Regions from separate parts of the Homo sapiens genome. Here region 1 is linked to region 2. Evidence: fine-mapped expression QTL. A gene starts in region 2. The other region holds a variant in brackets. All regions are shown on one strand. Distances are from middle to middle.

Region 1 (5,381 bases), 47 kb before region 2:
ATTCAACTATCAGCGAGGGACAAATAGCACAGCACGACTACCATTTTTAATGTCATTTAAAAGCAAAACAAAATAAAGGAAGTTAGGATGAACAGAACCTGATTTTACAGTTAAACATCTCTACAAACTCCCACATGCCTGACTTCAGCTAGTCTCCCTCTGCTCTTCATCCCTGTTAACTTCTAGACAGGCATGTACAGCAGGCCTTTGGAATAAAAAACACCTATGGCTACTTCTTAGCTGTGTCCAGTTTCTCCTCCTATCAGTTCTCTGGTAGAAGCAAGCCAGTGTTTTGAACCTATAAGGCAGAGCACATACCCATATTTCTTTATTCACACAAAGAGGAATGGTATTCATGCCACTAACCAGCGTTAACCATAGGCAAAGAAGTCCAGGAAGCATCACGGCCTTTACTGGGAGCAGCCAAACGGGGTTGGTTATTCTACTCCTTGCCAAGGCAACACTGTGAACAATGGACAGCAAAGGGACTACACTACAGTTCCACGGTCTAAGAAAAGCAGCAGCATGATAATTCCTTTCACACTAGTTTTCAAAAGCTCCACATTCCCTGGTCTGGTGGCAAAGAAGAGAGTCTCTCTGGCGAGTCAAAAATGAAAGAACATGTCATCATCGGCCTCGTGGCTCTCCCTTGAGGGGAAAAAAATGCTGCAGCTGCATGAAGATGGTGGTGGGGCTGAGACTCCTATATTCAACACATTACTACCAGGAAATCCTGACATTCAGCATCAAAGGAAAAAGGGGGGGGGGACAGAGGGGCTGACTTCAAAGGGTGTCTGGCTAGTATATTCTTTTCCCTGGAGCTGCCAGTTATTCCCTAGGTATCACTTGTTTTAAAACAGCTTCCCTGGCAGGCAACAGCCACCCCCTAGAGAGCCAAATCCCAATCACGAGTGCATTCTGACCAGACAGCCTGCTACAAAGACAAAGGAATTAAGTTAACTAGATTTCCTTTACATCCCTGCCCATGTCAGAGAACAATAGCTTGTGAAGAACAAAGGAACAGCAAAAGAGGTCCATATTTAGTCACGACAAAGTTCTTTCTCAAAAATTAAACTATTACCAGCAGAGTACTTTAAAAACCAGTTAAAAGATAATAATCAATAGCATAAGAACAGGTCTAAAGCAACCTGCATTTCTCTTATATCATATATCATCACTGGGTTAAAGAATTGTGGAAAATTACATTTTAATTCATACTTAACTTTGTTGGAAATGTTAGTTCTCTCAGCTTGGAGGCACTGACAGAAGGGGATTGACAGGCATGTATTAAGATGGCCTACAGATCACTCTACCTGAGGGATCACATTCATAAAGCACCATTGACAAATGAAATAACAACAGGTGCTTGTTCAAAACACAACAGCCCAATGTTACAGGCCCCAGGGAAGAGTGGAATAATTTCTATTCCATGGGAAGGGGAACTGAGACACACGGACGGGTTGCGTGACTCACCCCAGGTGTCACAGAAAGTTAGTGGGTAAGCTGGAAACATAACCTAGGCCTCTTAACTTCCACTCCAGTGCTAGAGTGCCCGAAACATCAAGACAGAAAAACTGCAGCAGAAGGGATTTAGTGTAGACGTTAGAAGGCTTTCCTGACTGCACAGGCTGTGGAAAACACTGGAATGCATTACCAAGAAAGACTGTGGAGTGCTCTCTTCTGGACCCTTTAAAAGGGGGCAAGCCAGGCGCGGTGGCTCACGCCTGTAATCCCAGCATTCTGGGAGGCCAAAGTGGGCAGACCATGAGATCAAGAGATGGAGACCATCCCGGCTAACACAGTGAAACCCTGTCTCTACTAAAAATACAAAAAATTAGCCAAGCATGGTGGCATGCACCTGTAATCCCAGCTACTCGGGAGGCTGAGGCAGGAGAATCGCTTGAACCCGGGAGGCAGAGGTTGCAGTGAGCCGAGACTGCGCCACTGCACTCCAGCCTGGGTGACAGAGCGACACTCCGTCCCAAAATCATAAATAAATAAATAAAAAATAAAAGGGGGCAAGGCAGACTTAGGAACCATTCACAACCCTTCTTCTTGGTCCACATATAATTCTATAATACTTCGAAAGGCCCAAAAGCACACATTAAAAATTATCAATTTTGCCTTTTTAATCACATACCAGATCAGGGTCAGGAAAGCAGAGCTCTTTGGCCAAGTCTGGCCACGTCTAACTGTCCCATGTTTTCTGTGGCTTATTTTGTTCTACAAAGCTGAGTAGTTGGGGGAGAGACTGGATGGTTCCCCGAAGTCAAAAATATTTATTCTCTGCCTCTTCATGGAAAAGGTTTGTCAACCCCTGCATTAGAGATCAGATAAGCTGAGGGGCACTAGACAACATTCCTCAGCACGTATATTCCTAAAATAAAGTATCCAACAGAGGCTCAATACTTAAGGAAGCTTTATCTCAGGCAGAGGAGATGTCACGGGCTCTCATACCTCCCTGGCTGTGGTAAGATGTAAGCGGTCCTTACCGGTATGACTCCAGGAAGGCAACATGCCTGGTAGAAGCTTATCGCCTTGACTTGGGCAACAGAACTATCATCTTGGATTGAATAATTCGGCTCATATTCGTCTTCATTTTCACCACCATTAATTAATGGCCTGTGTGAGTCTTCTTCAAAGTTTTCTTCTGCCTCAATACCCGAGAGACCTAAAATAACAGCGACAGCCACTGTTTATGGAGTGCCTACCACGTGTGAAGGGCTCTGCATACATCCCTACTTATGAGGTGATGTTATTTTTATTTCCATTTTACAGAAGCAGCAACGAAGGTCCAGAGACCGAGGTCAACTAAGGTCAATTAAAGTCACACAGTCTATCTAAAAATACTCAAAAGATAGAAGAATTGTACATCTGTTTGCTTCTGTGGTTTCATTTGTATGTAATCTGTATTTAACTACAGGTTAAGTATCTTTTTTGTGCATCATTTTTATGGATGAAAAGAAATGTTTCAAGAAGTGAAATCAGAAATACATCTATGTTCATTCCTTGCCAGTGTCTCAATTATAAAAATAATTTGCAAATGCGAAGATTTTCCTGTATCTATAAAAGACGTGCATCACTCCCCTCAAACACGTCCAGCTGTGCCAGGGGCTGGCTACAATGTCGACAGGACTCAAA[C/T]GGCAGTACTGTTCTCCTTTCACTCACTAAAAGGAGCTCAGAGTTTTCCTAGGAAAAAAGAGATTCGATTTCTTGGCCTCAGATTTCCTTTCGGCCATAATAGTAAGACATTCGGAATAGAAGGGGCGGCTTCTCCTCACCAATTTCTTCTGGTGACACCAGGAGTCCAAAGAAGATAACGATCCCACCAGCAAACTGCACAGACGCCGTCACCAGAAAGGCATACTGGAGGAGAGGGGTGAAAGGTGGTCCTTACATATCTGGGGACAGTCATCACAAGCACATTCATTAAAGGTGTGTGGGGGAAGGTGGGGGTGGGGGAGAGGTGGGAAGGGAGACCGGGAAGCAAGGGAGCACCCAGAGCTTCTACTGGGCCGGGCGCCATGCAAAGTGTTCTACTCGTGTTTTCTCATTTAATTCTTCCTGGTGATTGTATGAGGCTCAGAGAGGAGAATGAAGCTCCCCTGGATACTAAGTGGTACTGTTATGATTGTGAAATTAGACTAGCTCCAAAAATCTAGGTCTTTGTATCACATAGCCTCTCATAAAAGACAGTATCTGCCCTCAAAGATATTACATACAGTTGAGGGGATTAAATACATGAAACAATATTATAAAGCACCAAGAAGCTGAATAGATGAGAAGGCCCAATCCTACTGAGAAACATATACGGGAATCCAGATGAAGGAAAGAGCTGAAGAGGTTGAAGCAGTAAGACAATGTCTTAGGGAAGAATGGAAAATCAAAGTCAATTGCCCATCTTTCCAGGCACACGGTAAGCAAAGACACAGGGTGGAAGGAGATAGAAAGCTTACTGCACGACTCAAGGAGAGGGCTTCTGCTAGGGGATAATCAGGAAGAAAACTGATTTGGAAAGGTGACAGCTAGATTAAAGACTCTCAACCCCCAGGCTGCACAGCTGAATTTTTATTTAACAGAGAATGGAACCTGATGTGGACACTGAATTTTTAAACCGATGAGTGACAAAATTAGTGTTTCCAGAAGTCAAATCTGAGAGCAGCTCAGAAGGTGAACTGAAATTTTCATCTGAACCAACTATACAATCCAGGTGTGAGGCTAAGAAGCCTAGAATAAAGGTGGCCATGAATGAAGGGAATGAAGGACTTCTCACTGACCCTAACTACACCAAAATTCTTGGTGAGCTGTTTAAAAATGTATCTACCTTTTAAAAGAGCGAACTTACCTTTAATAATTTAGGTTTTTGAGTAGGTAATATATTCACATGATTCAAGCAACAGAGGAATAAGAGGTACAGTCAAGCTGGGCACGGTGGCTCATACCTATAATCCCAGCACTTTGGGAGGCCGAGGTGGGCGGATCACCTGAGGTCAGGAGTTCAAGACTAGCCTGGCCAACATGGTGAAACCCCATCTCTACTAAAAATACAAAAATTACCCAGGCGTGGTGGCGTACACCTGTAATCCCAGCTACTCGGGAGGCTGAGGCAGGAGAATCTCCTGAACCCAGGAGGTTGCGGTGAGCTGAGATCACGCCATTGCACTCCAGCCTAGGTGACAGAGTGAGACTCTGTCTTGGAAAAAAAAAAAAGAAAGTACAGTAAAAACTCTCCTTCCTACCCCACCTTCCCCATCTGCTCAATTCTCCCGATTTTCCCAACATATAACCATTGTTGTTCATTTTTACTGCCCAGAAATTGTTTTGGAAACATACAAGCTAATACAAGCATATTCTCTTTCATTCTTCCTTCTTACATAAATGGCATTCAATACACAGTTTTGCACCCTTGCTGTCTTCACTTAGCACACTGTTTTGTTTTGTTTTTTTTTTGATACGGAGTCTCGCTTTGTCACTCAGGCTGGAGTGCAATGGCATGATCTTGGCTCACTGCAACCTCCGCCTCTTGGATTCAAGCAATTCTCTGCCTCAGCCTCTGGAGTAGCTGGGATTACAGGTGCCCGTGACCACGCCCGGCTAATTTTTGTATTTTTAGTAGAGACAGGGTTTCATCATGTTGGCCAGGCTGGTCTTGAACTCCTGACCTCGTGATCCACCTGCCTCAGCCTCCCAAAGTGCTGGGATTACAGGCGTGAGCCACCACACCTGGCCCACTTAGCACACTTTTGAGATTGCTGCAGTGCACTGCTATCAGTTCATACAGAGCTTCCTCATTCGACTTCACAGGTGCACAGCATTGCTTTCAACAGGTTTATCATGGTTGAACTATGTCCCTGTTCGCTGACAGTTGTGTTCACTCTTTG
Region 2 (5,381 bases):
CTCAAATTAAAAAAAAAAAAAAAAAAAAAAAAGAGCTATAAAAAAATAAAAATAGGCTGGGTGCGGTGGCTCACACCTGTAATCCCAGCACTTTGGGAGGCCAAGGCAGGTGGATCATTTGAGGTCAGGAGTTCTAGACCACCCTGGCGAATATGGCGAAACCCTGTCTCTACTAAAAACACAAAAATTGGCCAGGTGTGGTGGTGGGTGCCTGTAATCCCAGCTACTTGGGAGGCTGAAACAGGAGAATTGCTTGAACCCAGGAGGCGGAGGTTGCAGTGAACCGAGATCCCCCTACTGCTCTCCAACCTGGGCAACAGAGCAAGACTCTGTCTCAAAAAATAAATAAATAAATAAATAAAAGAACTAGCACACCTAAACTCAGAGGTATATACCAAGGATGGGGAAAAAAAACATCTTACTGGTAAGAGTGGTTCTCTTACACACTCAAAGGAGAGGGGCATTAGATGGGCAATTACTCACCTCCCAGACTTCAGTTTTTATGTCTGCACAGTAAAAAGATTATGTGTTTTCAAAGTGTAAAGAAGAATGTGGGAAATTATTAAATGTATAGTTGAGTTCACCATTTTTACAGTATTGTATATGTTGCAGTTTAGCGTCTCAATGCTCACACTCATACAACTATCTTTTTTTTTTTTTCAGAGACAGGGTCTCACTCTGTTACCCAGGCTGGAGTGCAGTGGCGTGATCATAGTTCACTGCAGCCTCAATCTCCTTCCTAGGTTTAAGCGATCCTCCTGCCTCAGCCTCCAAAGTTGCTGGGACTACAGGTGGGCACCATCACACCTGGCTAATTTTCTTAGTTTTTGTAGAAACAGGGTCTTGCTATGTTAACCAGTCTGGTCTTAAATTCCTGGCCTTAAGAGATAGATCCTCCTGCCTCAGCCTCCCAAAGCCCTAGGATTATGGGCATGAGCCACTGCACCCAGCCACAAGTATCTTTTTTATCCCACATTATCTCATACGAAGCCATTTACTTGAACCTCATAAATCCTTTTTATTCATTAATTCATCCGTCTTCCTGTAATTTTTATCTCTTCTTAAATTATCTCATTACCACAGGCATAAAATACTTGGCATTTATCTGTAAATATCTCTCATTTTATTCCAGGGTTTCCAAAACCACATTCTTCCTCCCTGTTTTTGGACATGTTCCAAAGACAACTAGTTTTCAAGATAAAAATCTTTCCCTCTTCTACCAAAGGATTTATAATCAAGTTAATGGTCACTGCAGTGACATGACATTAACACTGATGAACAGAGCACAAATCAGAACCTTAAACAATGAACAAGGCAGTTGATCCTGACAGCTAGAAAGCAGCAAGATACTGTTGACTTAACTTTTATAAAAGTATTGTTTCCGGGTCACCTTCTTAGGCAGAGACTCGAAATCAAACACTAATAGAAGAATGGTGTCATTCAAGAGACAAGCCAGGTATGGAATCTAAGACCCTCCACTTAAAAGTAGCTTCTCTGAATCTCAATTTCTGTTTTTTTTTTTGTTTTTTTTTTTTTGACAGAGTCTGAGGCCGGGCGCAGTGGCTCACGCCTGTAATTACAGCGCTTTGGGAGGCCAAGGCAGGCGGACCACGAGGTCAGGAGATCCAGATCATCATGGCCAATATGGTGAAACCCCGTCCCTACTAAAAATCCAAAAATTAGCCTGGCGTGGTGGCGGGCGCCTGTAGTCCCAGCTACTCGGGAGGCTGAGGCAGGAGAATCACTTGAACCCGGGAGGCGGAGGTTGCAGTGAGCCGAGATGGTGCCACGGCACTCCAGCCTGGGCGACAAGAACAAAAACTCAGTCTCAAAAAAAAAAAAGACAGAGTCTGGCTCTGTCACCCAGGCTGGAGTGCAGTGGTGTGATCTCGGCTCACTGCAACCTCCGCCTCCCAGGTTCAAGCGATTCTCCTGCCTCAGCCTCCCGAGTAGCTGGGATTACAGGCATGCGCCACGACGCCCAGCTAATCTTTGTATTTTTAGTAGAGACGGGGTTTCACCATGTTGGCCAGGCTGGTCTTGAACTCCTGACCTCAAGGAATCCACAGGCCTCGGCCTCCCAAAGTGCTGGGATTACAGGCATGAGACACCGCGCCCAACCCGAAGCTCAATTTCCTCATGTATTAATTAAATGAGATAATTTATATGGAGTTCTTAGTATAGAGCCTAGTATCCAAGAAACATCAAACAAACTGAAAAGAAATCATTTAAGCACCAAAGCACTGAAGACATTCCCTTCAACAACTGTTATATATATTTATGTATGTATAAATTTGTGTAAAGGTAGAAATAAACCGGTGGACAAAAAGATAACAACTGAATGATTTTGCTCACCCCAGGAACCACTCCTCCCTATAAACTATAAACTTTTCAGTAAGAGTTACCACGAGATAGCCTACCATCTTACATTTCAAAAAAACACTAAAAACTCCGGGGACACATTCCCATTATCTCCTGTCAAAACTGAGAATAAACAGAACACACCCTGCGAAGAATAAGGAGGGAATGACGAATAATTTGACCAAATTCCTTGACTGAGTTCATGCTAGTTACCAGAAAACAAAACCAGTCACTCACTGAGACCACGCTTCTTCTCTGACCTCTATACATCCTTTCCAAAGAGCTTCCTTCCCCACCTACCTGAAAAGCATCCCCTCTCCCCTGGTCCGAACGACAAGCCCTTTTCTGATCAAGTCAGAATCTCCCAGACCCACGGCCGGAGGACAGGCGGGCGAGGAGCACAAAAGCCTCTGCCGCATGGATCGGGGCCGGGCCGCAGGGTCCCCCGGGGGTCCTTCTCCTCCCCATCCACCCCATCGCAGCCTCCCCGTGACGGCCGGGACCCCAGGCCCGGGCCCAGGGAGGAGAAGGAGGGGGCGAGCGGCCGACCCTGCCTGGGCGCCCCACCCAAGGGGGGCCGCCACCTACATCTCCCCACCGCCCTCCCGACCCGGGAAGCCCCTCGGATTGGACCCGCCCCCGCCCCAGCAGGTCTTCGGCCCCACGCATCACCGCTTGCGCACCCGAGATCCGCAGTGGTCGCCGCTCTCCAGCCCCGGCTCCGCTCGCCGGGTCAGCTTGGCTCCGCTGCCCGCCTCCCCCGCCGCCAGCTCACCCCTGGCGGTGCGACCAGGGTTTCCGGACGCCCACGTGACCCTCCCGTCGCGGGGCACGCTGGGAGTTGTAGTCCCGCCACGCGGCCTCACCTGCCGGCGCGGAGGAGGGCGAGGAGGGCGGAGGCTGGGAGCCCACAGAACTCTGCTGCTGCGGACCTGGCCAGTAATGTTAGCTGCAAAAGACGAGAGGTAGAGAGAAGAAATGATATGGGGAGAACTGGTGCATCCTTTTTTTTTTTTTTTTTTTTTTTTTTTCAAAAAAGCGGTATTCGGTCTTTGTTTTTATAAAAAGTAACGTGCTGCTAAGTGTGCTACTGACCGGCCTAAATTTTAGGTGTCTAATTAAATGCAGGCCGGGCACAGTGGGCTCACGCCTGTAATCCAACACTTTAGGAGGTCGAGAAGGGAGGATCACTTGAACCCAGTAGTTCAAGACCAGCCTTAGCAACATAGCCAGACCCCATCTCTACAAAAAATGTTAAAATTAGCCAGGAGTAGTGGCATGTGCCTGTGGTCCCTGCTACTGGGGCGACCGAGGTGCGAGGATCGCTTGAGCCCAAAAGTTTGAGGCTGGCAGCTGTGATTGCTCCACTGCACCAGCCTGGGCAACAGAACGAGACCCTGCCTCCAAAAAAAAAAAATCCAACACAAGTGTCTCACACCTGTAATCCTAACACTTTGGGAGGCCGAAGTAGGAGCATCATTTGAGAACAAGAGTTTGAGACCAGCCTGGGCAAGGTAGTGAGAGCCGCCCCCCATCCACCACCACCACCGCCGCCACCGTTTCTTAAATAAAGGGAAAAAATACAGACACTTGTTCGAATTTTAAAGAAAAAAAACTTCTCTTAATCCAGAAAATCTCCACAACAACCATTACATACCTGTTCTCAAGATAAACAATCACTAGTCTTCAAATAACAGAACTTGACAACACCTTTTGTCAAACATAGTTCCTCCTTACTTAATAGTAGTAATTGGGGAGACCACTCATGTTGGCTTTATCCAGAAGCAAAACAAACTTCGCATAACTTTTTGTTGTTGTTGTTCGTTTTTTAAACTTCGCATATCTTTTTGTTTGTTTGTTTTTTGTTTTTGAGACGGAGTCTTGCTCTGTTACCCAGGCTGGAGTGCAGTGGCGTGATCTCAGCTCACTGCAAGCTCCGCCTCCCGGGTTCAAGGGATTCTCCTGCCTCAGCCTCCCGAATAGCTGGGACTACAGGCGCCCGCCACCACGCCTGGCTAATTTTTTTGTATTTTTAGTAGAGACGGGGTTTCACCGTGTTAGCCAGGATGGTCTCGATCTCCTGACCTCGTGATCTGCCCTCCTTGGCCTCCCAAAGTTCTAGCATTACAGGTGTGAGCCACCGCAGCCGGCCAAAGTTCGCATATCTTTATAGCAGGAGGTAGTTTTACAAATTGGAGCAAGGCGCCCATACCCACTAATTTAGTCTCTTACCCTCATGTAGGAACTGGAAGATACAGGCACTAACTCACGTCTGAATTTCAAAAAGATGACCCCCAAGTCCTTGAGGATACATTTCTGAGTTGTGATACTGGCAAGAGGCTCATTTCGCCGTTATAAAGATTTGTGTACATTCGAAAAGGACAGAGAAAGAAATTTTGAAGGAACAGAGAGAAGGCTGAGAAGTCTCTTTATTTTCAGCAGAGGAATTAAGCCTGTTATTTTTCATTTTTATTTGCCCTTATACAGTGGTAGTTTTGTTTCTAGCCCTTATACAGTGGTAGTTTTGTCTCTAGGCATCCAAGGAGAAATATGATGTCAGGGTGAGCAAAAATAAATGAGCCAAATATGTTACTTTTATTTTTAAAAATATATTGTGAATCGTTTATTTTTCAGCCTAAAAAAGGTAGCAAATTCTGACACATACTACAACATAGACGAACCTTCAAAAACATTATGCTAAGTGAAATAAGTCAGACATAAAAGGACCAGTACAGTACAGTTCCACTTATATGAGGTAGCCAGAGTAGTGAAATTCATAGAGTCAGAAAGTAGCATGGTGGTTGCCCATGGCTGGAGGGAAGGGGAAATGAGAAATTGTTGTTTAATGGCTATGGAGTTTCCGTTTGGGATGCCAAAAAAGTCCTGGAGATGGATGGTGATGTTGGTTGCACAACAATGTATTTAATGCCATTGAATTGTACACTTAAAAACGGTTAAAATGGTAAATATATATACATAGAGTGAAATACATAGTTTTTTGTGTTATATTTACATATGGG

Evidence for each region. PIP is the estimated chance that this variant, and not a neighbour inherited with it, causes the effect.
Region 1: its variant is fine-mapped to the expression of SLC37A3 in transverse colon (GTEx, PIP 0.92).

The regions. Positions count from the first base shown.
Region 1 is chr7:140,348,781-140,354,161 of GRCh38, forward strand. It overlaps SLC37A3 (solute carrier family 37 member 3), which reads right to left. Exons shown (of 15, transcript NM_207113.3): 8 at 3,282-3,366; 9 at 2,493-2,671. Among named protein-coding and RNA genes, the nearest start is that of SLC37A3, 47 kb to the right of the region's middle. The variant C/T (reference allele first, on the strand shown) is at 3,142.
Region 2 is chr7:140,395,372-140,400,752 of GRCh38, forward strand. SLC37A3 (solute carrier family 37 member 3) reads right to left here and starts at 3,159. Exons shown (of 15, transcript NM_207113.3): 1 at 3,045-3,159. RefSeq lists silencers at 2,697-2,966, 3,077-3,306.